Linked DNA regions of Homo sapiens. The protein of the gene in region 1 purifies or fractionates together with the protein of each later gene. This does not show direct contact. Each region holds a gene or a part of one and is shown in the gene's direction. Other genes may lie near its edges.

The links.
Region 2: the proteins of ZNF214 (region 1) and LRP4 purify together in Homo sapiens (affinity purification with mass spectrometry; 2 studies listed by BioGRID and IntAct, with this or other methods). This does not show direct contact.
Region 3: the proteins of ZNF214 (region 1) and TOPORS purify together in Homo sapiens (affinity purification with mass spectrometry; 2 studies listed by BioGRID and IntAct, with this or other methods). This does not show direct contact.
Region 4: the proteins of ZNF214 (region 1) and NEK7 purify together in Homo sapiens (affinity purification with mass spectrometry; one large-scale study listed by BioGRID and IntAct). This does not show direct contact.

The regions. Positions count from the first base shown.
Region 1 is NC_000011.10:7,011,850-7,019,879, reverse strand, and holds part of ZNF214 (zinc finger protein 214), read left to right. Parts: intron 1-129; exon of another isoform or gene 130-180; coding exon of another isoform or gene 181-197; intron 198-3,855; exon of another isoform or gene 3,856-4,060; intron 4,061-8,030. UniProt on the Homo sapiens protein: May be involved in transcriptional regulation.
Region 2 is NC_000011.10:46,871,257-46,879,286, reverse strand, and holds part of LRP4 (low-density lipoprotein receptor-related protein 4 precursor), read left to right. Parts: coding exon 1-161; intron 162-248; coding exon 249-380; intron 381-1,947; coding exon 1,948-2,088; intron 2,089-2,456; coding exon 2,457-2,543; intron 2,544-2,649; coding exon 2,650-2,821; intron 2,822-3,320; coding exon 3,321-3,483; intron 3,484-3,605; coding exon 3,606-3,831; intron 3,832-4,183; coding exon 4,184-4,487; intron 4,488-4,870; exon of another isoform or gene 4,871-5,693; coding exon 5,694-5,912; exon of another isoform or gene 5,913-6,052; coding exon 6,053-6,187; exon of another isoform or gene 6,188-6,213; intron 6,214-7,653; coding exon 7,654-7,762; intron 7,763-8,030. UniProt on the Homo sapiens protein: Mediates SOST-dependent inhibition of bone formation. Functions as a specific facilitator of SOST-mediated inhibition of Wnt signaling.
Region 3 is NC_000009.12:32,540,442-32,548,471, reverse strand, and holds the end of TOPORS (E3 ubiquitin-protein ligase Topors), read left to right. Parts: intron 1-4,145; coding exon 4,146-7,085; 3' UTR 7,086-7,928; downstream 7,929-8,030. UniProt on the Homo sapiens protein: Functions as an E3 ubiquitin-protein ligase and as an E3 SUMO1-protein ligase. Probable tumor suppressor involved in cell growth, cell proliferation and apoptosis that regulates p53/TP53 stability through ubiquitin-dependent degradation.
Region 4 is NC_000001.11:198,315,110-198,323,139, forward strand, and holds the end of NEK7 (serine/threonine-protein kinase Nek7), read left to right. Parts: intron 1-4,302; coding exon 4,303-4,413; 3' UTR 4,414-7,311; downstream 7,312-8,030. UniProt on the Homo sapiens protein: Protein kinase which plays an important role in mitotic cell cycle progression. Required for microtubule nucleation activity of the centrosome, robust mitotic spindle formation and cytokinesis.

The DNA.
Region 1 (8,030 bases):
GGTTCTCTGGTGCTTACACTTGGGCAGCCCGTGACGCGTTGGGGGAGCCCAAACCTGTCCTGCTCTTGGGGCACGCATGAAACGTTTTTTCCCTAGAGAAAGAGGGTTAACTAATTGCTTATTACTTTGCCCAGGAACCTACCTTTGATCAGCAAGGAAGGACTGGGGTGGCAAAGGCTCATGCCCCCATTTTACAGGTAAGGAAACTGAGATCTTGGAGATCTATAAGTTTGGTCCTCTTTAAAGTTCTACAAGTGCTTGATGGCACAGTTGAGACTTTGATCAGGACCTGGGAGCTCCAGTTCTGGGATACTTCTCTAAGACTCCAGGTACTTTTCTGATAGTAAATCCAGTATTCCTGTTTAGCAAGTAGGGGAGGACAATGGAATGATTTTCTACTTAAACTGAACAAAATAAGAAAAATACCTTGAGAATAGATACTATTTAAGTGTGCTGGTGCTTTCCTATTATTGTTAGTAGTAATAATAATCTCAATAAATAAGTGAGTTGTATCTTTTGAAGTTTCTAGAGGGTTGGAAATAAATTTCAAGGTGCCAGTGTTCATAGCTCTCCTTTCTGGTCGTTGAAAGGAAACAAGAGCATTCATAGGCTTCTTTTGGACCTCTTGCTAGGAGATGTGTGCGTCATACCCAGTTAGTATATGGGAAATTTAATGAATTTGGGAATTTAAAGCCATACCCAGGTTTTCAGTCTGCCTTCCTCCTCAGCTCAGCCGTCTCAGCACTCTACCCTTCCCCAGAAGAGGAACACAAAGGAGGAAGGAATGTACACTGTTTCCCTCATAGTCTGATCCCAAGTGAGGATGATTGTCTTTTCTCATTTACAAAATGTCCCTGCATTCTCCATGGGTGGTGGAGGTGGCAATGAGGATGGATGGATGACTGGACAGAAAACGTTCCTCGCTTGCCTGTGAAATTTTCGAGCGTGCAGACTTGACCCTGCCCCAACCCAGTGTCTTTTCCCAACATTTACTCATTCATTCATTCAGTCACTCAAGTCTAGTGTATAATTCATGCTGTTCTTGGTGTTCTGAGATAAAGAATTATAAGAATGTCATCGCCAGGCGCGGTGGCTCACGCCTGTAATCCCAGCACTTTGAGAGGCCAAGGTGGGCGGATCACTTGAGGTCAGGAGTTTGAGACCAGCCTGGCCCACATGGTGAAACCTCGTCTTTACTATAAATACAAAAATTAGCCAGGCATTGTGGCAGGCACCTGTAATCCCAGCTACTCAGGAGGCTGAAGCAGGAGAATTGCTTGAACCCGGGAGGCTGAAGTTGCAGTGAGCCAGGATGGCACCACTGCACTCCAACCTGGGCAACAGAGGAAGACTCCCTCTCAAAAAAAAAAAAAAAAAAAAAAAAGTCTTAACATTGGGGGTAATAAACTATATGAGATTAATAATAATTTCTGAAGTTATCGACATTAAACAGTGCCAGAATGAGTGGCACTTAAAACACAGCAACAGAAACTCAGATTTGAACAATTATGAGTAGGAAGATATTCTAAATAGGAAAGCCATCATTTACTCTCAGGTACAATTTGAGGGAACAAATAAGGAAACCAGGCTAGTGACAGGGAAGTGAAACATGAATGTATAAAGCCACATTGTGGAAGGCAATTAATGTTTAAATTTGTTATTTATTCTTGTGCATCTCTTCACATGAACCATATTGACAGCCATTGTTGACCTTTGGGTGTATTTACTTGTAGTCTTTTATTTAATACTTATTGTATATATGTACTCACTAGTCTGTACAAATACTGATATGTATGTATACATGTTCATACACATGTACAAATATAAACTTAGGTATATGCACACACGTATATAAAAAGATTAGTATATATAAAACATTAAATTAAAAAATTTGACTCATGACAAATAGTCTCCATGAGGGAAGGAAATGTTCCCAGTATATAGAAGTGTACTGTGCGTATACTAAGCACTCAGTAAATATTTATTCAATGTATGAATAGCTGTTATTTGTATACGTTTTTCACTTAACATATAATGAGCATTTTTCCAAGCATGTTTTGGTAGCATGAGTTTTAATGACTGTATAGTGTTCCATTCTAGGTATATAGTATGCTTTATTTAAGTTTGCTTTTTTTTTTTTTGAGACGGAGTCTCGCTCTGTCGCCCAGACTGGAGTGCAGTGGCATAATCTCGGCTCACTGCAACCTCAGCCTCCCTGGTTCAAGCAATTCTCGTGCCTCAGCCTCCCGAATAGCTGGGACTACAGGTGCACGCCACCATGCCCAGCTAATTTTTTTGTATTTTTAGTAGAGATGGGGTTTCACCGTGTTGCCCAGGCTGGTCTTGAACTCCTGAGCTCAGGCAATCTGCCCACCTTGGACTCCCATTAAGTTTGCTTTTTACTGGGGAAAATTTAAGTATTTCCCAATATGTTGTTGTTATAAATATCTTATAATAAATATTCTTATACATAATTTGTTAAGTATATGTCTTTTTATTTTCTCAAGATATACTCTGAGAAATAGGAAAACAGAATCAAAGGATATAAGCATGTTTTAGGCTTTTGAAAAACTGAAGTTCTCTTTTAGAAATGTTATGTGAACTTGAACTCCTACAACCATTTGATGAATGATTCTATCTTACTGAGCCTTTGCCAGCACTGAGTATTAAGTTTTAAATTTTGCCTTGATTTGCATCCTTTTTAATCCTTAGTAGGGTTGACTTTTTCACATATATTCGTTGACTCTTTATATTCCTTCTTTGATGAATTGCCTTTTGATATACATCACTGTTTTCCTACTGAATTTTTTGTTTCCACTTGATATTAGATATTCTTGTGTGGAAAACATATAAATCATTTGTCATATGCTGTAAATATTTCTCCTAGTTTATCATTTGCCTTTTACTTTAAGGACTTGTTTATATAAGTTTTAAATTTGCATAAAATGAAATCTCATTTCTTTTACTTATATAGTTCTGTGCTTTGAAATCTCTTCTTCACTTCCAAATTTAATATGTAATTGCTTTCATTTTCCTGTTTCTTAATTGTGTTATTTTAAACATTTAATTTTTAAATCTATCAAGAATTTATTTTGATGTGAGAAATGACAGAATTTAAACATTCTTTTTACTTCCTACTTAGGTTATTTAATTTTTCTACTAACATTTATCTTCTCTACTGACTGTGGTGCTACCTTTTCATATACAAATTACACATACACATATGTATACAAAGATTACTTTTGAGGCTGTCTTGTTTTGTGGAGCCTCTTCTCAATTCTTACACTGGTATCAGAATGTTTTTATTGTTGTCCCTTTATATGTAGTGCATTTAATACGCAATGAAGAAGAATGTAGCATTTCTTTTTCACTCAGTGAAGATAAAAATGAGAGAGGATGGCTTTTTCCACAGAATAATATTCTGATGATTTCCATTTTGGTCAAAAAGATGTAAAAGGAACATATATATAATAAGTTTTAGATAATAAGTATATACTAACCTTTCATTATGTTTAATCAATATAGCACATTGGTCATAGTACAGGCTCTACATCCACTACCTAAGCTTATTGCATGTCTGTCACTTCTTAATACTGTGAACTAGATTGAATCACTTAGCTAGGCTTTCATCTTTATAGTGGAGAAATAACAGCTGCTGTGTAGGGCTGTTAAGAATGTTAAACAAGATCATACATGTAAAAATAACTTAGAACAGTGCTGGACATGAAGAACTAACAATTGATTGCATTGTTAGCTATTATTTGAACTATAATGCATATCTGATATAATTCTTTTTAGTCACTAAGACGTAAGAATTGAGACAGAGTATCAAGCTTAATTTTTTTTTTTTGCCAGATGTCATCATTTGTCCCAACATCATTGATTGAATAAGCCGTCTTTCCCCCACAAATTTGATGTAACCTTTGTCATGTGTAAAATGCACTGTTGTACTTGTGTCCATTTCTGGATTTGTACCCGTTTCCATTGATCTTCTCTACTTGTATGTCAAGCCATGTTATGAATTGCAGAGTCCTTATTAAAGTTTTAATATGCCATTGAATTAGCCTCTCCTCATTATTCCACTTTCAAAATGGTTTTCTTTCAAAAGCATTTGAAAATCAGTTTGTTACAGCTCCTCCAACCCCACATCAAAATCAAGATTAATATCTTGATTAAATCTGCTTGAAAATAGAGATAAGTTTAGTTAGAACAAAATTATATTTATTTCTCCTAAGACTGAGCAGAGTCATCTTGTTTTTTCAAGCCTATTTGTTGTTGTTGTTGTTTTTGTTGTTGTTTTGAGACAGAGTCATCTTGCTCTGTTGCCCAGGCTGGAGTTCAGTGGCACACTCTTGGCTCACTGCAACCTCTGTCTCCCAGGTTAAAGTGATTCTCATGCCTCAGCCTCCCAAGTAGCTGGGATTACACGGGTGAGCCCCACATCTGGCTAATTTTTGTATCTTTAATAGAGACAAGGTTTCACCATGTTGGCCAGGCTAGTCTCGAACTCCTGACCTGAAGTGATCCGCCCACCTTGGCCTCCCAAAGTGATGGGATTACAGGCATGAGCCACCGCACCCGACCCCAACCCTATTTTTAGCACTCAAAATTCTAAAACTATCTTTATATAGGTTCTGGTATTTTTGGTAAATTTATTTTTAGGAATTTATATTCTTATTGCTATTATAAATTTCATTTAGGCAGAGCTTGCAGTGAGCCGAGATCATGCCACCGCACTCCAGCGTGGGCAACAGAGCGAGACTCTGTCTCAAAAAAAAAAAAAAAAAAAATTCTAATTATTATTTATATGTCTGAACTCTTTTTGTATACTCTTAGATTTTATGTAATTTGAACTTTATTATGATGTATTTCCTATAAGCAAAAGAATATATGAAAACATACGTACAATTTAAAATATAATAACACGGACACTCACCATTGAACTCGGCATACACTGTTTTTTCTTTTTAAGACAGACTGCTTTCTCTCCCAGCCTGGAGTCCAGTAGCGTGATCTCAGCACACTGCAACCTCCACCTCCTGGGTAGTGTTTTTTTTTTGTTTTTTTTTTTTTTTGTTAGAGACAGGGTTTCGCCATGTTGGCCAGGCTGGTCTCGAACTCCTGGCCTCAAGTGACCTGCCTGCCTCAGCCTCCCAAAGTGCTGGGATTATAGGTGTGAGCCACCATGCCCAGCCTAAATCAGCATATACTTGTAAAAGCCCTCTGATGACTCCAGAATTTCTTTCCCACCCCTCTCCTAAAGGGGCAGCCACTATCTTAAATGTTGTTATTCCTTAATTGTTTTTTCCTGCGCTTTTAACTACAGGTACATTTCTAAACACAATTGTTTAGTTTTGCATATTTTTGAACATTGTAAAATTGAATCACTATATATTCTTCCATGAATGGCTTCTTTTGCATAATGCTAAATTTTACAGTGCATCGATGTTGATTCATGTAGCTGTTCATTTTCACAGCTGTGTACTATTTCATAGTATGAACAACTTATCTGTTTTGTTGTTGGACTTTTTGGATTGCTTTAGTTTTTTGCTGTTACAGCATTTATTATGCTCTAACTGTTCTTGTACAGATCTTTTGGTATACATGTGTAATGTCTAGTTTATAATTCTAGTAACAGAATTTCTGGGATCATGAATTCCCTTATCATTGCCAGTAGTTTTCAGCTGATTTTCTTGGATCTCTCAGATATGCAGTCATATCCTCTACAGATAATTTTGTCTAATTGCATTATGCTGTAGTTTCACAGTAGTTTAAAAGTTGTGGACTTGCAGTATCCTTGTCAAGTTTCCAGTTTTAATGAGAATGACTTTAATGCTTTATCTTTGGGTTTAAGATATGTTTGTATGTCTTCTGCTTTGTTTTGTTTTGCATGCTTTGTCTGTAGTTTTAAATGAAGGATGCATGTTGAATTTTAATAAGTATACTTTTTGGCATCCATTACAATAATCATATGGCTTTTCTTATTTGATGTTATTATAAAAGCTTAAAGTTAATAGCTTTCCTAATTTGAACCTTCCTTTTCTTTCTGGAATAAACTACCACTTTACCATGATATAATATGCTTTGGTATTATAACAGATTGAATTTTCCAAAGATGGCCTTACTTATTGTTGGGGTGATCAGACCCAACACCAGGTCGTGGGGGTGACAAAGTCCGGCGGAGTCAAAGGATTGAGAAAAAGACAGTGAGAGAGAAAAGGAGGTGGGAACACCAGGGGGCCATCGCTATTGTACGGAGGCTGCGAAGGCCCCAAGCTCTGGGAGCCCACGCTATTTATTGGTAATCCAACAGAGAAACAGGTGGTGAGAATGTGGAGGTCAAAAGGACACGTTGCATTAAGCACATGATTTACAGCTGCGATAGTTTAGCATTTATATGGAACATGTTCTGCTACTTTAGATAGTGGGAATAGGAGCCTAGGAGGGCTAGAAGCAAGGAGCCAGCAAGTCTAGACACATTCCAAAGGACATTATGCAAACCCTGCCTCAGTTTCCTTCACAACACTCAGCTTTTTCCCAACACTTACAATTTATGCTGTTTTCATGCTCTTCTTATGATGTGACTGACATTGTTTCCACTGAAAGGTGGGGTCTGTGTCCCACCCCTCTCAAATACAGCCATGGCTTGTGATTGCCTCATCAGTGGAGTACAGTAGAAGTGATAGGATGTGACCTCCAAGGCTAAGTCATAAAAACAATGCAGCTTTTGCTTGACTTTCTTTTGGGCAACTTGCACCATGCTGACAGATAGCCCCCGCCACTTGAAAGGACCACGTGGAGAAAAAACAGATCTCTCATCAACATTTAGACCAGCCTGCCAGCCATGGGAGTTAGCCACCCTGGAATTGAATCCTTCTTCTCAGTCAAGCCTTTTGATGACTGCAGATGTAACCAACAACTTATCTTGTGAGATCCAAACCAGAGCTGCCTAGCTAAGCCACTCCTGAATTTGTGACCCAGAAAAAAAAATAAGAAATAGTAAATAATTATTGTTGTTTTAAGCTACTAAATGTTGAAGTAATTAGTGATATGGTAGTAGATTATGAATTCAAGTGCTGCTGGATTTTACTGGCCTTATGTTTCACTTTATTTCTGACGTCTTGAAGAGTTTTTCGTTTCTGATGCCTTGAACAGTTTTTGATGCCTTGGGATAATTTCATAGCATCAAATAATCTGTTCTTTGAAAATTTGAAAGAATTTGAGAAAACTTTTGTTCCAGTTATTTTTAAAGGTTGTAGTTGCTATTTCCCTAATCTTATTTTTATTTTTTTCTATTTGTGCTCCTTTTCCCCCCTTTGATTAACTAGCTTGTGATTTATCTACTTTGTTATTAATATTTTTCCTCTCAAAGGACTGGCTCTTGGATTCATTTAACAGTGGTAAATGTTTTCAAATTCCATCTTTTTTTTCATTAATTCCATCTTTTTTCATTAATTTTATAGTTTTCCCCTTAACATTTAAGTACTTACTTGATCTATATACTTAACCATTGTATATGGTATTAAGTTGGAATCCAGTTTTATTTTATCTCATATAGTTAATCAGTTTTCATAATGCTATCTGGTAAATAATCCTTACCTCTGTCTTTGATTTTTAATGCCACCTCTATTGTTAATATGTTTTTGTAGATAAAGAAGCACATTGGTTAGTCTCTGAGCCCTCTGCTCTGTTCTACTGGTCTATTTGTCTCTTCTGATTTTACTACTGTAGTTTTGGTGATATGTCAGTATCTGGTAGTCTTCCTGTTTGGTTTACTTGTCTTTACCAACTTATTTCCTTCCTTGTCAATTTTAAGGAACAGAAGTCTATTGCGTTCCTCAGAATAGCCATCTGAATATTTGACTGGAATGTATTGAATTTAAGTTACTGCATCCAAGAGCGTGGAAGCATGCTTCTCCTTTTATTTAGATAATCTTTCTTCTTTATTGGAATGTGAAAGTTTTCTTCAAATAATTATTTGTATTCTTGGTTAAGATAGGGTTTTTTTTCTGGTGTGAATGGTATCTTAC
Region 2 (8,030 bases), about 40 Mb from region 1:
ATTTGGGCTGACCCTCTATGGAGAGCGCATCTATTGGACTGACTGGCAGACCAAGAGCATACAGAGCGCTGACCGGCTGACAGGGCTGGACCGGGAGACTCTGCAGGAGAACCTGGAAAACCTAATGGACATCCATGTCTTCCACCGCCGCCGGCCCCCAGGTGAGCAGCCCTTGGCTCGCATTGGCTTCTCCGTGGCCCTCCTATGCCCTAGCTCTCCCCATTGAACATCCCCTCCTCTCTACCCAGTGTCTACACCATGTGCTATGGAGAATGGCGGCTGTAGCCACCTGTGTCTTAGGTCCCCAAATCCAAGCGGATTCAGCTGTACCTGCCCCACAGGCATCAACCTGCTGTCTGATGGCAAGACCTGCTCACCAGGTGAGTGAAAGCATCACAGATCTAGATGCAGCCTCTCTGGGAGGGGGCAATGGCTCTCTTCCTTCCTTGCAGATGGGCTCCAATGTGGTCTGAGAAACCATGAGTCCTGCTGCTTCTAGAGGCCCAGGGGAGAGACTCACGGCTTTTAGAAAAGGGGACGGGCCTGGGGAGAGGCCCTGGGGAGCAAGTAGAAAGGACTGGAGGCAGGGTCCAACTAGTTCTTATGATGTCTTCATGCATATTAGATAAAGATGCTCCTTTCTCAAGACACTTTCCTCTCATCTCTTAGTACATTGTCATAATATACTGATTTGGTTGGAATAAGACACTTCTGGCTGGGCACGGTGGCTCATGCCTGTAATCCTAGCACTTTGGGAGGCCAAGGCAGGCAAATCACTAGAGGTCAGGAGTTCAAGACCAACCTGGCCAACATGGTGAAACCTCGTCTCTACTGAAAATACAAAAATTAGCCAGGCATGGTGGCGCGTAATCCCAGCTACTTGGGAGGCTAAGGCAGAAGAATTGCTTGAACCTGGGAGGTGAAGGTTGCAGTGAGCAGAGATCACGCCACTGCACTCCAGCCTGGGTGACAGAGTGAGACTCTGTCTCAAAAAAAAAAAAAAAAAAAAAAAGACACTTCTAACTGCCCAAAATTGGTATAATAAAAACAGAAATGTATGATATCTACAATGTCACAGTACCCTCCTCCTTAGATGTGCCACTTTTGTGAGTGCACAACCTATGTGACAACCTTATTGGAGGGTCCCAGAAGCAGTACCTGGCTACCCAGATGTCGGAAGTCAAGGCTTCTCCCTAGGAGATGCTGCAGGGTAGGCTGCATTTGAACTCTAACCTCCCTGGGAATTTGAGTGAGAAAGGAGCTGTGAACTGTGCCTCTCAGGTTGTGAGTAAAGCCCCCTGGGGTCCCTTTATTCCCTTTCTTTTTTTCTCTTTCTTAATCTTCATGGTAAAGGGTCCTTCAAAGAGAGCCACTTTCATAATATTAATAAAGAGGCATTATTTATGAATATGTGTGAGACCTAATGGTAAGTGCTTTATGTACATGATCTTTTAACCCTTACAGCCACCCCATTATTGTCCCCATTTTATAGATAAGAAAACTGAGGCCTAATAATTTAAGCTGAGAGTAGTGGCTCATGCCTGTAATCCCAGCACTTTAGGAGGCTGAGGTGGGCAGAGGCTTGAGCCCAGGAGTTTCAGACCAGCCTGGGCAATATGACGAAACCCCATCTCTACAAAAAAATACAAAAATTAGCTGGGCATGGTGGTGTGTGCCTGTAGTCCCAGCTACTCAGGGGGCTGAGGTGGGAGGATCGCTTGAGCTCAGGAGGTCAAGGCTGCAGTAAGCCATGATCATGCCAGTGCACTCCAGCCTGGGCGACACAGCAAGACCCTGTCTCAAAAAATAATAATAATTTAAATAACTTGCCTAGAATAACATAGCTAGAAACTAGCAGGGACAGGGCATGAGTTTCAGTTTGCCTGATTCCAAATCCATTTAATGGCTGTGCTCGAGTGATCCTCTTCCCTCCTCTCCACCTGGCAGGCATGAACAGTTTCCTCATCTTCGCCAGGAGGATAGACATTCGCATGGTCTCCCTGGACATCCCTTATTTTGCTGATGTGGTGGTACCAATCAACATTACCATGAAGAACACCATTGCCATTGGAGTAGACCCCCAGGAAGGTCTGTATGGCCCTCTCTTCCCACCTGGCCTTCTGTCCCTGCCCTTCAACAATTACTGTCTTTCCTCTCCCACCACCTTTGTCTCCTGCCAAGAGCCAGGGTGTTTGTTCCCCATTCCCTCTGGCATAGCCCCTGTCCCTGTCTCTCTAGCACTCTCTCTTTGGTTGTGAGAGCATGGTTTGGGGCCCTCTTCTCTCCGTCTCTGCCAAGAGCTATCCTGCTATGATATTTCTGCGTTTTCCTTGATTTCCTCTGCTAGAGGCTCCAGAGCTCTCTGACATGCTCTGGTGTTTCAAGACATGAATCAGCTGTGTGTGTCCCATTGTAGGCGGTGAGGGTCTAGGTTGAGCCAAGCTTTCCCTCTCCAGGAAAGGTGTACTGGTCTGACAGCACACTGCACAGGATCAGTCGTGCCAATCTGGATGGCTCACAGCATGAGGACATCATCACCACAGGTGGGCCTTCCTCCTAGCCCAGGGACCACCTGTCTGGCAACAGGGCTGGGGAAATAGCCCATCTGTTTTAAAATAGGAGCCAGTGTGCTCTTTTGACTTCCCACAGGGCTACAGACCACAGATGGGCTCGCGGTTGATGCCATTGGCCGGAAAGTATACTGGACAGACACGGGAACAAACCGGATTGAAGTGGGCAACCTGGACGGGTCCATGCGGAAAGTGTTGGTGTGGCAGAACCTTGACAGTCCCCGGGCCATCGTACTGTACCATGAGATGGGGTGAGAGCTGGCTGTATCGCACTGGGTAGTGTGGGGGGCCAGCTCAGCTGGGGTTATGACGGGGTAAAGGTGGGTAGTGGAGAGGAAGCTTGCATCACAGAAACAAGGTGACCTCCCTGGGGCTCTTCCACTCTCTTGTGACTTCTCGCAGGGTGACAGTACAGTGTAGAAGTTAAAAGCATGAGCCTTGAATCAGAATACCAGGATTGAAATGTTTTCATCATGTATTAGCTATATCACTTGGGTCCGGTATTTAACCTCTCTAATTCTCAGCTTCCTTACCTATTAAATGGAGGTGGTAGTGAAAATACATACCTTGTGGCCCTTATGAAGGTTGAGATAATGCACATGAAGTATTTTGCAAAGTACTTTGTCAAGCAAAAATTTTGCCTGACATACTGTAAGTACTCAAGTGTATCTGACATACTGTTAAGTATTCATGGTATGTGGTAGCTGCTGGAATAACTAGCTAATATAGCTAATATTCTTCCTCACTCAGGTTTATGTACTGGACAGACTGGGGGGAGAATGCCAAGTTAGAGCGGTCCGGAATGGATGGCTCAGACCGCGCGGTGCTCATCAACAACAACCTAGGATGGCCCAATGGACTGACTGTGGACAAGGCCAGCTCCCAACTGCTATGGGCCGATGCCCACACCGAGGTGAGAGCCGTGTCCCTGCTGCTTCCCAGGAGCCTGGGAAGATGGGAAAGGCCTGCCTAGGATCTCCATGGAGAGTTCCCAATCTGCTGATCACCACCCCCCACCCTCTCCTTCCTCTGCAGCGAATTGAGGCTGCTGACCTGAATGGTGCCAATCGGCATACATTGGTGTCACCGGTGCAGCACCCATATGGCCTCACCCTGCTCGACTCCTATATCTACTGGACTGACTGGCAGACTCGGAGCATCCACCGTGCTGACAAGGGTACTGGCAGCAATGTCATCCTCGTGAGGTCCAACCTGCCAGGCCTCATGGACATGCAGGCTGTGGACCGGGCACAGCCACTAGGTGAGAGTCAGAGGGCTGGGGCTGTGAGTCAGAGCCTCTGGCTTTCTGGGGCCATCTCAACATCAGAGATATATCCAGAGCACAGAGCTCCTTTACAGCCAGAAAGACGGTGACCTGTTTAAGCTCCCTTCCAGATTGGGCTGTGTTCTCTCTGGGTATGGCTGGTACTACAGCTGTCACCTTCAAAGGACTCCTGGAGATCCTCCTGCAGACCCTCCTTCTACCTCACCCTGCCAGGCACTGAATCCTGTCACTTAGAACAGCAAAGAGCCAGCCACAAACAACTGGGACCTTTGTAAGATTCAGATGATGTTCCAGGCTAGGTGTGAATACTTGTGCTTCTCATCACCAGGTTTTAACAAGTGCGGCTCGAGAAATGGCGGCTGCTCCCACCTCTGCTTGCCTCGGCCTTCTGGCTTCTCCTGTGCCTGCCCCACTGGCATCCAGCTGAAGGGAGATGGGAAGACCTGTGATCCCTCTCCTGAGACCTACCTGCTCTTCTCCAGCCGTGGCTCCATCCGGCGTATCTCACTGGACACCAGTGACCACACCGATGTGCATGTCCCTGTTCCTGAGCTCAACAATGTCATCTCCCTGGACTATGACAGCGTGGATGGAAAGGTCTATTACACAGATGTGTTCCTGGATGTTATCAGGTATGAGCAACACTGAAACCTCCAGAAGACACAGATTTGCTTCTGGTCGCCCATGGGTGAGGTTGTGTTCTGACCACTAAATGGATGAGTGATTTGGCACTTTGGATAGTGAGTTTTAATCCTGACTTGTTCACTTTGTAGTGTTGTCACTTACAGCAGAGTTTCAAACTTTCATTTGTTTAGAGATTATATGGAAGCCTAGTATGTAAAACAAACAACAACAACAAAAAAAACAGGTAAAGTCAGGGGACCTGGAGACTTTCACATCTACCATTGTGCCCTGAGGGAGCTCCAAGAATCCCCTAGGACTTACTGATGAGTAGGCCATATAACCAGTATCTGTATTGCAGTAAAGGAGCCCCAATCAAATGCCAAGTCTTATGGTGGTTTACAAAGCTGTTGTTTTTTATTTTTTCGTTGTTTTATTTTTAGTCTTTAAATTTGTGGCCCTAACACAGCTTAGGAATATGATGTCCTGCCACCAGTAAGAGTGGTTTACCATGGCAGATATTCTCACATGGAGGAACAGGGAACATTCCCCTTTGCTCTCCCCAAGGGATGTATTAGAATCTCAAACTGGGGACAGGTAGGCATATACAGTTTAGGGAAGTCCCCTAGGTGACAGTGACATGCTCCCCATTCTGAGGTAGAGTTCCCTCCTGCCCATAGGGCCTTTGCAAAAGTGCACAATTAGGGTCTGGCGTGGTAGCTCGCGCCTATAATCCCAGCACTTTGGGAGGCCAAGGCGGGAAGATTGCTTGAGCCCAGGAGTTCAAGACCAGCCTAGGCAACATAATGAAACCTCATATCTACTTGTATTTAAAATTGTTTTTAACTTTTAAAAAATGCACAGGTTGGTTTTGACAAATCTGCGTTTCTTATCATCACCACCTAGCAATCCTTGTCTCTTCCCAAAGGTATGTGGGGAATGATAAACTTGTCTTCTAGCAAGACATCCCCTGGCAACCGCCACTATGTCCAGTTAGCAGGAAATACTGTGTCCTCCTAAGAACTGGTTCCTTCATTCTGCAATTATTTTATTGAACATCTATCATGCTGGGTGCTGAGGAATGTACTCATAGATACCTGGTCTCTATCCCTGTGGAGCTTACAGTTCAGTGGGGTCCAGTTATGGGAACATGGGTTAAAGTTCTACTCTATTCTGGGTCAGTCTGGTTGCTCATCCAACACTGGGCTCTCCCCAAGGCGAGCAGACCTGAACGGCAGCAACATGGAGACAGTGATCGGGCGAGGGCTGAAGACCACTGACGGGCTGGCAGTGGACTGGGTGGCCAGGAACCTGTACTGGACAGACACAGGTCGAAATACCATTGAGGCGTCCAGGCTGGATGGTTCCTGCCGCAAAGTACTGATCAACAATAGCCTGGATGAGCCCCGGGCCATTGCTGTTTTCCCCAGGAAGGGGTAAGTTTATGGCCAGCAGAAGAGAGATCCAGGGAAGAAGGGCTGGGTGGAAAGATGGTGTTAGTGGGTCCTCTGTGTTCTCTCAACCTCTGGGTGCTGTCTTCCCATGCCTTGATGATGATGGCACTGTTGTGTCTCAGGTACCTCTTCTGGACAGACTGGGGCCACATTGCCAAGATCGAACGGGCAAACTTGGATGGTTCTGAGCGGAAGGTCCTCATCAACACAGACCTGGGTTGGCCCAATGGCCTTACCCTGGACTATGATACCCGCAGGTGGGAGTCTTGCATCAAACAGCCTCCTGGAAATCGGGTGGGCAGAAGAGAGAATGGTTGAGATTAACCTTGGAAAAATGAAAAGATAGAAAGCTTCTTGGTATGTGGGGAAGAGGAATCATTGAGAAGGATAAGGGAATATATTCTTAGAGCAGCGATTGCTAAATCCAGCCCTCAACCCTTATGTGGGTTTTGTTTGGCTGGTTTACATGTTCCTAATTTGAGTGCCTTTGGCAGAGCATGTCTTCTGGCTGGACCACAGGTCTCACACCCCTACTCATTTAAGGGCTGATTCTTATATTTGTTATAATATAACAAATCCTGATCCCTTCAGGCTCTGGAACTTTGTTGTTGTTGAGACAGCATCTTGCTCTGTTGCCCAGGCTGGAGTGCAGTGGCGCAGTCACAGCTCTCTGCAGCCTGAACCTCCCTGGCTCAAGCCATCTTCTTACCTCAGCCTCTCAAGTAGCAGGGACTATAGGCACATGCCACCATGCCCAGCTAATTTCTAAATTTTTTGTAGAGACAGCATCTCGCTATGTTGCCCAGGCTGGTCTCGAACTCCTGGACTCAAGCAATCCTACTGCCTTGGCTTCCCAAAGTGCTGGGATTTCAGGCATGAGCCACCACGCCCGACCCAGGCTCCGGAATGTACAACTCCTTGTCTAGATAAGAAATGCTAAGGGCAGGGGGAAGGGGCTCTAAAGCAGTCTGTGCCCCCTTCTGATCCAAAAGAAGGGGAAGGGAATCCAAGACTTCTGGAAAGGTGGTAGAATGCCTTCTTCTTTTAACCTCAGCAAGGTCCATGTAGACTGGGCTCACTTCCTTTTTTGTTGTTGTTGTTGAGACAGAGTCTAACTCTTTTGCCCAGGCTGGAGTGCAGTCGCACGATCTCGGCTCACTGCAACCTCCGCCTCCTGGGTTTAAGCCATTCTCGTGCCGCAGCCTCCCAAGTAGCTAGGATTACAGGCACGTGTCACCACGCCTGGCTAATTTTTGTATTTTAGCAGAGACGGGGTTTCACCATGTTGGCCAGGCTGATCTCGAACTCCTGACCTCAAGTGATCCCCCGCCTCGGCCTCCCAAAGTGCTGGGATTACAAGCGTGAGCCACCATGCCCGGCCGAGTGAGCTCTCTTCTTAAAGACCATTTGTAAGAAATTGGGCTTTGATTATTGGGTAGGAGTCAAAGGGCAATCAAATTCCTGAAGATGAGGCTGGGTGGTGGTTCCTCTGAGGTCACTAGACTTTCTATGCCTCCCCAGAGCAGCCCTGACCTCCCCACTCATGAACCACCAGCTCCCTTCTTCAGCTTTGGGACTCACAATGACCCCTCATCGAGGGTGCTTCTTGAGTTCTCATAGCATCTGCCAGTCAGCTCAGGAGGGGACAAACAGGTTCATAGGGGGAAGAGCTGGGCTCCCTGGCAAGCGTTTGGAGCAGCCACTCTTTTCATTTTCTTCGCAGGATCTACTGGGTGGATGCGCATCTGGACCGGATCGAGAGTGCTGACCTCAATGGGAAACTGCGGCAGGTCTTGGTCAGCCATGTGTCCCACCCCTTTGCCCTCACACAGGTACTGGCTCAGGAGAGAGGTAACTAAACCTCCTTGACTGGGATGTTTCTTTGGGGTTCTAAGTCAGCAGTCTCAGCTATAGCTGCTACTGAACAGACGTGCTATTGCAGCTCATTTTAGGGATTTTTCCTGTGCCCTGAAGCCTTGGTAGGTTGGTAGGGCCACCGAGTGCCTTGCTACTCTTATCCTGCCATTCCCATGTTCTAGCATTCAAAGGAGTGGCTCTCAAAGAGTGGTATACAGAATCCGATATGGTGCTTGTTAAAAT
Region 3 (8,030 bases), on another chromosome or scaffold:
TCACTGCAACCTCCGCCTCCCGGGGGTTCAAGTGATTCTCCTGCTTCAGCCTCCCGAGTAGCTGGGATTCCAGGCATGCGCCACCACGCCCGGCGAATTTTTGTGTTTTTAGTAGAGACCGGGTTTCTCCATGTTGGTCAGGCTGGTCTCGAACTCCCGACCTCAGGTGATCTGCCCGCCTCAGCCTCCCAAAGTGTTGAGATTACAGGCGTGAGCCACCGCGCCCGGCCAGCAAATCAACCACTCTTAATCTGTATCTAGTCATCCCAGTTTTTATGCCTTAATTTGTATTTTTAAACAGCTTTGTTAAGATTACATTCCGGGCTGGGCGCGGTGGCTTACGCCTGTAATCCCAGCACTTTGGGAGGCCGAGACGGGCGGATCTCAAGGTCAGGAGATCGAGACCATCCTGGCTAACACGGTGAAACCCCGTCTCTACTAAAAATACAAAAAAAAAAAAAAAAAAAAAAAATGCCGAGCGTGGTGGCGGGCGCCTGTAATCCCAGCTACTACTGGGAAGGCTGAGGCAGGAGAATGGTGTGAACCCGGGAGGCGGAGCTTGCAGTGAGCCACGATCGCGCCACTGCATTCCAGCCTGGGCGACACAGCAAGACTCTGTCTCAAAAAAATAAAATAAAAGATTACATTCCATCCATAAAGTTCACCCGTTTAAAGTTTGTAGGTCAATGATTTTTTAGTATATTTACAGAGTTGTACAACCATCACAATAATTAATTGTAGAACGTTTTCATCACCCCAGAAATAAACCTCTTTACTGCCCCAGCAGCAGCCACCAGCCTCATTTCATCTCTCTAGATTTGCCTATTCTGGACATTTCATATAAAAGGTATCATACAATATGTGGGTTCTTGTGAATTTTTTTTTTCATTCATTTAGCATAATAAAAAGTTTCATCCATGTTACAACATGGTACCAGTACTTTGTTCCTTTTTATTGCCAAATAAAATTCCATAGTGTGGATAGACCACATTTTATTAGTCTGTTAATCAATTGATGGGTATTTGAGTTTCTCCTTTTGAGGTATTATGACTAAAGTTGCTGTGAATATTCATATACAGTTTTTTTGTGTGGACAAGTTTTCGTTTCCCTTGGGTATATCTAGGTGTGTAATTGCCGGGTCATATGTTCGACTTCATTTGCGTTTTAAAAAACATTTTAATTTAGTATTTAGTGATGATTTTGAAGAGCTAATAACTTATTTGATCTACATGCATTCCAATTGTTTGATGTTTCTTTTTCTTTTTTAAAATAGAGACTGGATCTCGCTTTGTTGCCTAGGCTGTTTCAAATTCCTGGCCTCAAGGGTCTCCTGCCTTGGCTTCCCAAAGTGATGGGATTACAGGCGTGAGCCACCGTGCCCCGCCTCTTTGATGTTTCTGATGAAGACTGTTTGTTTGTTTGTTTGTTTGTTTTGAAACAGGGTCTCATTCTGTCACCCAGGCTGGAGTGAGGTGGTGCAATTATGGCTCACTGCAGCCTGGACCTCCCAGGCTCAGTTAATCCTCCTGCCTCAGCCTCCTGAGTAGCTGGGACTACAGGTGTGCCCATCATGCCCGGCTAAGATTATTCTTTTCAGCTAATGATTCCTGTGTAGAAATACAAGAATGAATTCTAATTTATTATTATTTTTTAACCTGTTATGGAGGACATTACCAGTCATTCATTCACCTTTTACTGTCAAAGTGGTTAACAGGCTTATAAAACTAGAGAAGGGAAGGGTAAGGTTTCATTTTTTTAAAAAAATCATACTTTGTTGAGATTTTATTTTATTTGAACTTCAAGTTTACTACCTAATAATTCCCTTTAATAAATTCATTTTCAGCTGTAATTTTTATGTGAACTGGAAGTGTTCAGAAAACACTAAAATTCTATTTCAGAGAACTAAGTGAAGATAAAATGTATTAACTTGGAATTCACGGGTCTTTTTTCCAAGTCCAGTAATCCCTTCATTATATAGAGGAGAAAACTAAAGTCTAGAGTAATGTGGTTTTCTTCACATTAACTAGAGCTAGTTCTAGGTGAAGCCTGGTCTTCAGTCCAGATCTTTTGATAACCTCTTTGATTCCCTCCCAACTTTTCTCTGTTCCTTCCCTCTACCACACACACAGTCTCTGAACTGAAAGGTTTTTATTTTTATGTGTGTGTTTCTTTAAATTTCTTGAGTAGGCAGATTAAAAAATGTTAAAAGTAGAGGGAAATGCTGAGAAGGTTGTGCAGTATTAGGGTTTTAGACTGTTTATGAACAAAAAAGCAGTATTATGTATTTATAATCCTGCTTTTCCAGACCTTCCAGGACAGTGATGATGTTTTTGCATTTTCAGTCCAGTAAATAGAAGACTAGACATACCTGGACCCCTGAAGAAACGCTTATTTAGCATTAATTGATTCTCTATTAAGTTATGGTTCTGAGAAAGCCAAGATGCCCTAAAGTGAGCAGGTTTAATATGAAAGCTATGGTGGAATACTTGTATTTCAGTCATGAGTTTTTGTTGTGGGTTTTGTTTATTGGTTTTTCTTATAGTTTGTTAAGGCCAATGAGTCTATTTAGAAAATTACAATTCTGTTATTTGATTAACTTGACCCCAGTTGACTAGTGATGGAACCTCCTGTGATAAAGGAGGTGGAGGAAGATGAATATTAGGCCCTGGGAAACCAAGGGCCTAGTAGTTTTTTGTTGTTGTTTGTTTATTTGTTTTGAGACAGAGTTTCACTCTTGTCACCCACTGCAATGGTGCAGTCTCAGCTCACTGCAACCTCTGCCTCCTGGGTTCAAGCGATTCTCCTGTCTCAGCCTCCCAAGTAGCTGGGATTACAGGTGCCTGCCACCATGCCCGGCTAATTTTTGTATTCTTAGTAGAGACAAGGTTTCACAACGTTGGCCAGGCTGGTCTTGAACTCCTGACCTCAGGTGATCTGCCTGCCTTGGCCTCCCAAAGTGCTGGATTACAGGCATGAGCCACCGCGCCTGACTCCCCAATAGTCAATATACTCAAAATGATTAGTATAAAATGCAGCTTTGGAGTTTATGAGATAAAGTCAAAACGCATACTAGATTTCAAGCTCTAGCAAAGTTTTGAGCCAATGTAAACTGATAAAACAAACTAATCTTTAATATTCTAGTCATCCTTATGGGAAAGGATAATAGGGAAGGGGACCAAAAACATGATTTCAAGATATTCTGTGGCCTGACTTTTGGATTAAAGAAAAAAGCTAAAGGAAGGCTTATTAGGAATGCTGAATGGAATGAGTGATTAACTGAATATAATAGTGTAGTAATAATAACAGCTGACATTTACTCAGCACCTACTGTGAGCCAGGCACTGCCTCTTGGCTGCTTTTTCATTTATTATTTAATCTTCACTAAAAGTTTCCTCTCCCTTTTTAAAATTAGCTTTCTAAGGTTGAAAAAAGAATCTTTCACTAAAAATCATAGGATTGGTTTAAACAGGTGAACTTTCTGGTATGTAAGTTATGTCACCAAAGTTGTTTTAGAAAAGTACATACAAAATATCACAGATAAATCAGTAGTCTGTATTGTTAGTGGCATATGTATATGAAAGGTATAAAGCCATGCATAGAAATAACATCAACTGAGGAGTGTGGTGTTTTTGTTTTTTGTTTTCTAGAGAGTGATAGGAGGGGAAGATAAGGGGCATAACATAAGTGGTGGATACATGGGTATTTGGTACTTTTTTTTTTTATATGTCAGATATTTCTCAAATTATTTTTAAAAAGAATAATAGAATGTTACATAATATTTGAGAGCTTTACTATGTAGCAGGTGCCTTTTCTAAGGGCTTTTTACATCTTCACAAACCCTGTAAGGCAGATTCTGTTATCACTGACCTGCAGATGAAATTAAAGCACAGAGATACTAACTGGCACATAGTCACGCTGGTAGTGTGGAACCAGGATTCAGTCTTAGGAAATCTGACTTCAGAGCTTATGCTTTAAGCACTATATTACTATGCTACAGTGCCCCTTTATAAAATAAAACAAAAGTAATGGGTCACTTAAGTATTTTCACCAAAATAAGTTTCAAGGTCTTTATTTGCATTTTTGTTGAGACTATTTAGTCATTCCTCTATTATCAGGTTACTGATATATTTCTTTCCCTTTTACAGATAATGGCATCAGCTGCTAAGGAATTTAAAATGGACAACTTTTCACCTAAAGCTGGCACTAGCAAATTGCAACAGACAGTACCAGCTGATGCATCTCCTGATTCTAAGTGTCCTATATGCTTGGATAGATTTGATAATGTGTCTTACTTAGATCGCTGCTTACATAAGTTCTGTTTTCGCTGTGTACAGGAGTGGTCAAAAAACAAAGCTGAATGCCCACTATGTAAACAGCCCTTTGATTCTATTTTCCATTCTGTGAGGGCAGAAGATGACTTCAAGGAGTATGTCCTAAGGCCTTCGTATAATGGTTCTTTTGTCACCCCTGATCGACGATTTCGCTACCGTACAACTCTGACAAGGGAACGAAATGCTTCTGTGTATTCACCTAGTGGTCCTGTGAACAGAAGAACAACAACTCCACCGGATAGTGGAGTACTGTTTGAAGGGTTAGGCATTTCAACAAGACCTAGAGATGTTGAAATTCCTCAGTTTATGAGACAGATTGCAGTAAGGAGGCCAACTACGGCAGATGAAAGATCTTTGCGGAAAATTCAAGAACAAGATATTATTAATTTTAGACGAACTCTTTATCGTGCTGGTGCTCGAGTTAGAAATATTGAAGATGGTGGCCGCTACAGGGATATTTCAGCTGAATTTTTCCGTAGAAATCCAGCTTGCCTTCACAGATTAGTCCCCTGGTTAAAACGTGAACTTACAGTTCTTTTTGGAGCTCATGGATCTTTAGTGAATATTGTCCAGCATATTATCATGAGTAATGTTACTCGCTATGACTTGGAGAGTCAGGCATTTGTGTCTGATTTAAGACCATTTTTACTTAATCGAACTGAGCATTTTATACATGAATTTATCAGTTTTGCCCGATCTCCTTTTAACATGGCAGCCTTTGACCAGCATGCCAATTATGATTGCCCTGCTCCTTCATACGAAGAAGGCAGCCATTCTGATTCTTCAGTCATAACAATATCTCCAGATGAGGCTGAGACCCAAGAGCTGGATATTAATGTAGCCACTGTTAGTCAGGCACCATGGGATGATGAAACTCCAGGACCATCTTACTCAAGCTCAGAGCAGGTACACGTTACTATGTCTTCTCTTTTAAATACTTCTGACAGTTCAGATGAAGAACTTGTCACAGGAGGAGCCACGTCTCAGATACAAGGAGTACAAACCAATGACGACCTAAATAATGACAGTGATGATTCTTCAGATAATTGTGTCATTGTTGGGTTTGTTAAACCACTAGCTGAGAGGACCCCAGAACTTGTTGAACTGTCCTCTGATTCTGAGGACTTAGGTTCTTATGAGAAAATGGAGACAGTGAAGACACAAGAACAGGAGCAATCTTACAGTTCTGGTGATAGCGATGTTAGTAGATGCTCATCTCCACACTCTGTCCTTGGAAAGGATGAACAAATAAATAAAGGTCATTGTGATTCTAGTACAAGAATCAAATCAAAGAAGGAAGAGAAACGATCTACATCATTGTCATCTCCCAGAAACCTGAACTCATCTGTAAGAGGAGACAGAGTATATTCTCCATATAACCATAGACACAGAAAGAGGGGAAGATCAAGAAGTTCAGATTCACGTTCTCAGAGTAGAAGTGGGCATGATCAGAAGAATCATAGAAAGCATCATGGGAAGAAAAGAATGAAAAGTAAACGATCCAGAAGCAGGGAAAGTAGCAGACCTAGAGGGAGAAGAGACAAAAAGAGATCAAGAACTAGAGATAGCAGTTGGTCCAGAAGAAGCCAAACTCTGTCTCTAAGTAGTGAAAGCACAAGCAGATCAAGGTCTCGTAGCAGTGATCATGGTAAAAGAAGATCACGGAGCAGAAATAGAGATCGTTATTATTTAAGAAATAATTATGGAAGCAGATACAAATGGGAGTATACTTATTACAGTAGAAACAAGGACAGGGATGGGTACGAATCATCTTACAGGAGGAGGACTCTGTCCAGAGCTCATTATTCTAGACAGTCTTCAAGTCCAGAATTTAGAGTTCAGTCCTTTTCTGAAAGAACAAATGCTAGGAAAAAAAATAATCACAGTGAGAGGAAGTATTACTACTATGAAAGGCACAGATCAAGGAGCCTGTCTAGTAACAGATCAAGGACTGCATCTACCGGGACTGACCGGGTGAGAAATGAAAAGCCTGGAGGGAAACGAAAATACAAAACACGGCATTTGGAGGGTACTAACGAAGTGGCTCAGCCATCTCGTGAATTTGCTTCTAAAGCAAAGGACAGTCATTACCAAAAATCTTCATCAAAATTGGATGGAAACTACAAAAATGAGAGTGATACCTTTTCAGACAGCCGATCATCAGACAGAGAGACAAAACACAAAAGGAGAAAAAGGAAGACCCGGAGCCTAAGTGTAGAGATAGTTTATGAAGGAAAAGCTACTGATACAACTAAACACCATAAAAAGAAAAAGAAGAAACATAAGAAGAAGCATAAGAAACACCATGGAGATAATGCTTCACGTTCCCCAGTTGTAATTACCATTGACAGTGACAGTGATAAGGATTCTGAAGTAAAGGAGGATACAGAATGTGACAATAGTGGTCCTCAAGACCCTCTACAAAATGAGTTTTTGGCTCCTTCCTTGGAACCATTTGAAACTAAAGATGTAGTTACAATAGAAGCTGAATTTGGTGTGCTGGACAAGGAATGTGATATTGCCACACTTAGTAACAACTTGAATAATGCCAACAAAACTGTAGATAATATTCCACCTCTGGCAGCTTCAGTTGAACAAACTCTCGATGTAAGAGAAGAGAGCACCTTTGTTTCTGATTTGGAGAACCAGCCCAGTAACATTGTGTCTCTTCAAACTGAGCCATCAAGGCAATTGCCATCGCCACGGACATCATTAATGTCAGTATGTCTTGGTAGAGACTGTGATATGTCTTAAAACTGCCAAAGCATTTCATTGAGAATTATGATGTTATAAAAAGGAAAAAGGAAGAATGTCGTCTACTGCAGTCTATTTAAAGATGACATTTGGTGAAAACTCTCTTCCTCCTTACAATATTTTAAATGATTTTTTTTTTGGTGTTAATTTGTAAAAATCATTATTTGTTCAAAATGTATGTCCCACCCTCAAAGATATGCACTTTTAAGTGAAGAAAATGATACTGCTAGCAGCTTATTTAAAACTTGGGGTCCTTTTTAAATAAGAAAAATTATATAAATTTTAGAAGTTATTTCATAAAGCCATACGGTATTGACATATTTTTAAGGTAGTCAATGAGTATTTTTGAATTTTTTTTTTTTGAGAGTTATTCTGGAAATGTGTTATAAGCTAGGAGAATCCCTTTGGACAGTCTTTATTTTTCTTCTTAAAAATTTATATGATTCAAAACCATTTCTTCAGGTTAAATTGAGGCATTTTAATCTGCACAGTTTATCTTCTGCCAAAATAAAAATTTACTATTTCCTTTATATACTTGTTTATCTGGACTGCCAGTAAAACAAATGTGTATTCAACAAAAGAAAAAAAATAAAACAGTAACACTTTAAAACAAGAATCAGACATTTTCCTATGCAGTATTTTTTTTTAAAGTTTATTTTAGTAAAGTTAAAATCTTGAAAGTAGCTAAGGGCATAATTATGTCATAAATACTGAACTTCAGGTGAACAAATACTTTATAGTTTTAATTATTTTCTTTGATTTTGAGGAGTATCTTATTTGCTTTCTATCATCAGTAAAAACAGCATTTAACTTGCTAAATAAACATGAAAAACCCTTGTCATACTTCTTTTACATTGGTAGTTCTTTCATATAAAGTGGTTATGTTTTATCTTGTTTTAGGGATGATAAAATTACATCTATGCTGATGTAGGATTGCCACTGAAC
Region 4 (8,030 bases), on another chromosome or scaffold:
AGCCAGATGCGGGATATAGTCTCCTGGTGCGCCGTTTTTTTAAGCCCGTCGGAAAAGCGCAGTATTCAGGTGGGAGTGACCTGATTTTCCAGGTGCCGTCTGTCACCCCTTTCTTTGACTAGGTAAGGGAACTCTCTGACCCCTTGCGCTTCCCGAGTGAGGCAATGCCTCGCCCTGCTTCGGCTCGCGCATGGTGCGCGCACCCACTGACCTGCGCCCACTGTCTGGCACTCCCTAGTGAGATGAACCCGGTACCTCAGATGGAAATGCAGAAATCACCCGTCTTCTGCGTCGCTTACGCTGGGAGCTGTAGACTGGAGCTGTTCCTATTCGGCCATCTTGGCTCCTCCTCCCCATCTATGGTGGGCCTTAGCTTTTCTAAGAGGTATGAGGAGCCATTGAAATGCTTAAAGTTGAAGCATCACCTGGCTAGTTAGGCAGTGCTAGAGAAATAGGAAGACAACTGAAAGCAAAGCCGTCAGCTGGAAGACTATCCAAGAGTGTGGCAGTGGAGATGGTGTGGCAGGAGCAAACAAAAGGTTTAAGGAGCCTGAGACCAATAGGACTGGTTGCTGACGGTTAGGCAGGTGGGAAGGAAGTATGATGAGATGTTTGATATGAATTTCAAATTTTTGACTTAAGAAGTTGGAGGTGCTGTTAGGAAGAGCTGGTTGGGGAGAAAAAAATACTAATATTTCAGTTTTAAACATGTTTAATGTGAATATTTACGTGCAGCTCTACTCAGAAGGCAGTTGGAAGTATGGGAACAGAGCCTGCAAAGAGGTCTAGGCTGGAGACAGATAACCTGTGTTCCTCAGCATGTTGGTGGTTATTGAAGGCATGGGAGTAAGTGCAGTTGTTGAAGATAAGAAGGAAGAGTGAAACAGGAAAAGAGTTAAGGAAAGGAAAATATTTAGGGCATACCAACATTTGGTAGATTTTTCAAAGGAAGATAAACCTCCAAAAGAAACTAGGAAGAAAACGTCAGGGAAGAGAAGGTCTAGGCCGGAATTGAATGATGTAAATCCAAAAGGATAGAGCTGACCAGGATGAAAGGGATTGGAAATGGTCTCAGTCAAATCAAACACAACCATACTGGAGGAAGGGAGGGAGAGACACAGAAGGACAGTTGTGTGTGCTTACATTTCTGATGTGACACAGCATTTTAAGAAACAGGCTGTGTCCTTGGAAGACAGAGACTAAATTGGTATGAAGGTGAAGATTACAGTCAGGTAATCAAAGAGATTTATATTGATTCACATCAAATAAATGTGAAAGTGACCCAAGATGAGGGTTGCAGTACTTGGAATGGAGAAGGATACTGTCAGCTGTGTGGGTATCGATACCTCCGTGTACGAGGTGCAACAACTCATAGTTAAACAGATTTTAGAAAAAGAGGAAAGTAATTATTTCCTCCTCTGGGCAGCCACACTTAATCTTTTACCTTTATCTCACAGATATCTCTTGAGATACCTATCACTTTGTAGTTTATAATAGAATTATTTCTGTGATTTCCTCACTTTCACATTTGTTTCTTTGTTCTGTCTATCTTCCGCTAGATTGTAGGCTGTTTAAGGGCCTGTGCTGTGTATTTTTCATTATTGCTTTATCCTTACTACCTAACAAAGTGTCTGGTACATAATAAATACTCCATTGGAAACTATTGAATGAACAATTGAATGAACGGATGAAAATGGAAGAGGGGGCAAAAAGAAAGAACAAAAGAGTCAGATGGTTAGAAAGGAAAATGAGTCATTCTCTCACTTCTCATGCTGGACAACAAGCCTTCCCTTGTGGACAGGTCCTTTGTCTTATCCGGTGCCATCAAGTATCACCAGCATAGTGTCTCTTGCAGAGTAGATCATCTAGAAATGTTGCTGGAGTGGATAAGTGGGAGCATTCCCAAAGCATATTTTAATTTCGTAGGTTTTCTTTCTTTTTATACTTTATTAATTTTTTAATGTAACAAATAATTGAGGAAAAGTTATCAACAGATTGATTCATAAATATAGTAAAGTATGCATATTCTGTATTTCACATATCTGATTTTATATGGTGATAGCCCTTTTGATTCTTCTGGAAAAGGAAACTCTTTATGACAAGATACACTTCGTATTTGGTGGAGATTGAATCAATAAGTGGGGAAGGAAAAGCAAACTCCAAGGTGCTGTGGCTCTGCCTGTCGCAAGGTCACCAATTGACCTGTCATCCCTTTGAAAGGCCATCCTTAAAGGAGCAGTTTAGAAGCATCTGCTCACTGGCACTCCCACTACCTATTTACCTTATTCAGTGTCTTTCTCCCTTTTTGTTATTCCCAATTCTTGTCTTTTTACTTTGGTGAACTAGAGAATCACTGTCTGCTTCAACTAAACGTGCATCATTATATCTCTAATCTTGGTTTTTCCTCATGCCAGGAGAACTTAAGGGCCAGTCATTCATTCTTAGTGGTTGGAAATTCTACCCTATTCTGAATTATTACACAGGAAAAGTTAAGGTTTCTGAACCAGCTTGAAGGATGTGGCAGTGTTAGGAAGTCAAAAAATTGTTTACTGCATGCATCTACTTGTATTTTAGCTAAATATAATGAACTTTTTGTACCATGGTTATCTTTTCCTGCTATTCTTTCTGCTTGCTTTCTTGTTTTTATCTCTAAAGAAAATATCTGACAGCTAGATGACCCATTAGAACACATTATCTTTTAAATTATGTGTCATTATGTAAGTGCTTTTCCCACTTTCTTCTGCATTGTGTATTACTGGATATATTTATTTTTTTTTTTTTTTTTTTTTTTGGTAACCTGGTAAAATGCCAGTCTCTTTCTGATGTAAATTTCTCTTAGATCACCATAATAAAATGCTTTGTGTATTGCTGTACCCCTTAAGGGTTTTAAATGCTGTTCTCTGCTCTTTTGGAAGGAATATAAATTAAAATCTTCAGGCTCTCCCAGTGGGTGTAACATTACTATGAAACATTGTTGAATTTCCAAGTGTAGCTAAAATTGATTCATTAAATTTCATTCTGCTAGAATCGTAAAATGTAAGAGATTAGGATGAGAACAGCCCTTATAGGTCATCCACTCCAACTTCCCTATTTAATAGATGAAGAAATGAACCTCCAGAGACAGTGACTTACCCAAGGGCACAGAGCTACAAAGTGCCTTCAACAAGACTGGTTTCCATTTCACTGTACTCCTTACCAAACTCTGACCCTTCATCTGGCAGACTCTTTGACCCACCTCCTCTTTCAGAATGACATTTCTCAGTGCCATTAGCCTTCTCCATAGCACTAGCAACATCTTCAGCCCAAGCTTTTTAATCATCACTTGTATTTTCTCTGGTTGAAAGTTATTTTATGGTAGAAATTGAGAACTATGAAGAAATTGTGCTAATTTAAAAATTTACTAAGTGCTATATCGTGGCCAGAGTTAATGCAAATTCTCAAAATGTCTAAACTGTTCCTAAAGAGACCTACAAAGCAAAAGAATATAGTTTTTCCTCTTAGTTTATTGTCTATGAAGATCATATACAATGTTATGATGACACATAGTTTCATAAACTGATGGAAATTAGAATTGACAATAAAATGCTATGTTCTTCTACCCGATGGATCGAGGACCATATAGGAGGGTAGTTTCTTAATTTATTGAAATCTGCTTTTATTCTATGATATAAATAGAATAAAATAGTAAACCTCAACTCTCTCATCTATAAAGTGAGGACATTTAAATACTGTGTACACAATTGAGGATTGGAATAACACTTATAACTTCCCATATAATTTATTATAATTAGTTTAAAGGAGTGTTTTTTTCTCTAATACAAAATTTAACATAAAACTTTTAATATATATTTGTACAAAATGGTTCATTATAAATGTATGTCAACTCTAATTGCCTTCCATTTAAACTTACAATTAAGTCTGTTGTAGTAGATTCTAGATCAAATATGTATGTGTGTATTTACAGTTAACTTGGAGACTTATAGTTATAAGACTAGTGTCCTCAGTGACTGCTATCTTCTGATTAAACTCTGAAAAATTAAGAGAGTCCATTTTAAAGCCTCTGATTGTGGAAAATACTTCTTGGTTGACATTAATACTGTCCATTCAATGCACTTCATAGAACATTTAACTTATTGTAAGATCATTGGCAGCAGTCTTATATATATTTCTAGTACAGTGAATGTTTAGTCAGAAAATGTACTTTCCTTGTAAAATCTATAGCTATTCATAATTTCTTCCTCTCAGTAAACTAACCAAAAATAGTTGTCTTAATCAGGTTTTATTGTTTTTCTTTCTTCACAGCTCCGACAGTTAGTTAATATGTGCATCAACCCAGATCCAGAGAAGCGACCAGACGTCACCTATGTTTATGACGTAGCAAAGAGGATGCATGCATGCACTGCAAGCAGCTAAACATGCAAGATCATGAAGAGTGTAACCAAAGTAATTGAAAGTATTTTGTGCAAGTCATACCTCCCCATTTATGTCTGGTGTTAAGATTAATATTTCAGAGCTAGTGTGCTTTGAATCCTTAACCAGTTTTCATATAAGCTTCATTTTGTACCAGTCACCTAAATCACCTCCTTGCAACCCCCAAATGACTTTGGAATAACTGAATTGCATGTTAGGAGAGAAAATGAAACATGATGGTTTTGAATGGCTAAAGGTTTATAGAATTTCTTACAGTTTTCTGCTGATAAATTGTGTTTAGATAGACTGTCAGTGCCAAATATTGAAGGTGCAGCTTGGCACACATCAGAATAGACTCATACCTGAGAAAAAGTATCTGAACATGTGACTTGTTTCTTTTTTAGTAATTTATGGACATTGAGATGAACACAATTGTGAACTTTTGTGAAGATTTTATTTTTAAACGTTTGAAGTACTAGTTTTAGTTCTTAGCAGAGTAGTTTTCAAATATGATTCTTATGATAAATGTAGACACAAACTATTTGAGAAACATTTAGAACTCTTAGCTTATACATTCAAAATGTAACTATTAAATGTGAAGATTTGGGGACAAAATGTGAGTCAGACACTGAAGAGTTTTTTGTTTTGTTTTAATATTTTTGATATTCTCTTTGCATTGAAATGGTATAAATGAATCCATTTAAAAAGTGGTTAAGGATTTGTTTAGCTGGTGTGATAATAATTTTTAAAGTTGCACATTGCCCAAGGCTTTTTTTGTGTGTTTTTATTGTTGTTTGTACATTTGAAAAATATTCTTTGAATAACCTTGCAGTACTATATTTCAATTTCTTTATAAATTTAAGTGCATTTTAACTCATAATTGTACACTATAATATAAGCCTAAGTTTTTATTCATAAGTTTTATTGAAGTTCTGATCGGTCCCCTTCAGAAATTTTTTTATATTATTCTTCAAGTTACTTTCTTATTTATATTGTATGTGCATTTTATCCATTAATGTTTCATACTTTCTGAGAGTATAATACCCTTTTAAAAGATATTTGGTATACCAATACTTTTCCTGGATTGAAAACTTTTTTTAAACTTTTTAAAATTTGGGCCACTCTGTATGCATATGTTTGGTCTTGTTAAAGAGGAAGAAAGGATGTGTGTTATACTGTACCTGTGAATGTTGATACAGTTACAATTTATTTGACAAGGTTGTAATTCTAGAATATGCTTAATAAAATGAAAACTGGCCATGACTACAGCCAGAACTGTTATGAGATTAACATTTCTATTGAGAAGCTTTTGAGTAAAGTACTGTATTTGTTCATGAAGATGACTGAGATGGTAACACTTCGTGTAGCTTAAGGAAATGGGCAGAATTTCGTAAATGCTGTTGTGCAGATGTGTTTTCCCTGAATGCTTTCGTATTAGTGGCGACCAGTTTCTCACAGAATTGTGAAGCCTGAAGGCCAAGAGGAAGTCACTGTTAAAGGACTCTGTGCCATCTTACAACCTTGGATGAATTATCCTGCCAACGTGAAAACCTCATGTTCAAAGAACACTTCCCTTTAGCCGATGTAACTGCTGGTTTTGTTTTTCATATGTGTTTTTCTTACACTCATTTGAATGCTTTCAAGCATTTGTAAACTTAAAAAATGTATAAAGGGCAAAAAGTCTGAACCCTTGTTTTCTGAAATCTAATCAGTTATGTATGGTTTCTGAAGGGTAATTTTATTTTGGAATAGGTAAAGGAAACCTGTTTTGTTTGTTTTTCCTGAGGGCTAGATGCATTTTTTTTCTCACACTCTTAATGACTTTTAACATTTATACTGAGCATCCATAGATATATTCCTAGAAGTATGAGAAGAATTATTCTTATTGACCATTAATGTCATGTTCATTTTAATGTAATATAATTGAGATGAAATGTTCTCTGGTTGGAACAGATACTCTCTTTTTTTTCTTGCAATCTTTAAGAATACATAGATCTAAAATTCATTAGCTTGACCCCTCAAAGTAACTTTTAAGTAAAGATTAAAGCTTTTCTTCTCAGTGAATATATCTGCTAGAAGGAAATAGCTGGGAAGAATTTAATGATCAGGGAAATTCATTATTTCTATATGTGGAAACTTTTTGCTTCGAATATTGTATCTTTTTAAATCTAAATGTTCATATTTTTCCTGAAGAAACCACTGTGTAAAAATCAAATTTTAATTTTGAATGGAATAATTTCAAAGAACTATGAAGATGATTTGAAGCTCTAATTTATATAGTCACCTATAAAATGTTCTTTATATGTGTTCATAAGTAAATTTTATATTGATTAAGTTAAACTTTTGAATTGATTTGAGGAGCAGTAAAATGAAAGCTATATCTATTCTAAACCTTATTTAGACATTGGTACCAGTTACCCAGGTGAAAATATGGAGTAACTTTGTTTTGTATGGTAAGGTTTAGGAATGGTGGATGAAGGGTATCTCTATATAAATAAAGTGCTCAACAATGTGCAATGATTGTAAATTTAGTAAGATATTACAGCCATTTCATGAATGCTTTACCATTCAACATAGTATCTATTACAAAACACCTTTCTTGTATCCATATACTTCAGGTGTTGCTGTTAACATTTACTATGATATTTATTTTAACCAAAATGTTACTCACATTAAATGTTTATTCTTTAAAATGAATGTATTATGTTTTTAACCCACAAATGCATACTTACCCTGTGCCTCATATTTCAATAGTACTGTAATATGGACATCTTTTGTGAAATACTTTTATTTTGTTATGCTTTAAATATACATACAAAAAGATTTCTGTTATTAGCTTTGAAAATTGTATAATATCCTAATATAAACAAAAATATAAAAATAAAAATGAATACAGTAAAATGTCTGGGTATCTATGATTTTTTCCCCTAAAGTCTTCCATTTTTTATTTTACTTAATACTTAATGTACAGAAACAGTTCTTACGCATTTTCATAACTTTGCCATTTTGGAGAAGCTTAAGAATTGGAATAGACAAGGGTGATAACAGAGATTACACAAATCCTAAAAAGTAGTTTTATCAACATGCATTAAACTAAGGACATCTTCAGGACATCATTTTCTGTTTTTGAATGAGAAACGTTTTCTAAAAGGTAAAAAAAAAAAAAAAGGAATATTAATCTTACTGCTTTGAATCTTTAGAGCAGGGGTGTCCAATCTTTTGGCTTCCCTGGGCCACATTGGAAGAAGAATTGTCTTGGGCCACACATAAAATGTGCTAAGACTAACAATAGCTGATGAACTAAAGAAAAAATAGCAAAAAAAAATCTCATAATGTTTTTTAAAAGTTTACAAATTTGTATTGTACTGCATTCAAAGCCATTCTGGGCCGCATGCGGCTCATGGGCTGTGGGTTGGACAAGCTTGCTTTAGAGTCTAAAATTTACATGACAGATTCAATTCCTGTCATTGTAATGGGCTGCTAAGAATGTTACAGATGGTTTATGTTGAGTGTTATCTTCACATAATAAATGAAGGTTACTGCTATACCTGAAAACTGAGTCTGAAAGATCTTAGCGGGATGAAACCTACCAGACTGTTGGTACAGTGAGTGGATATACC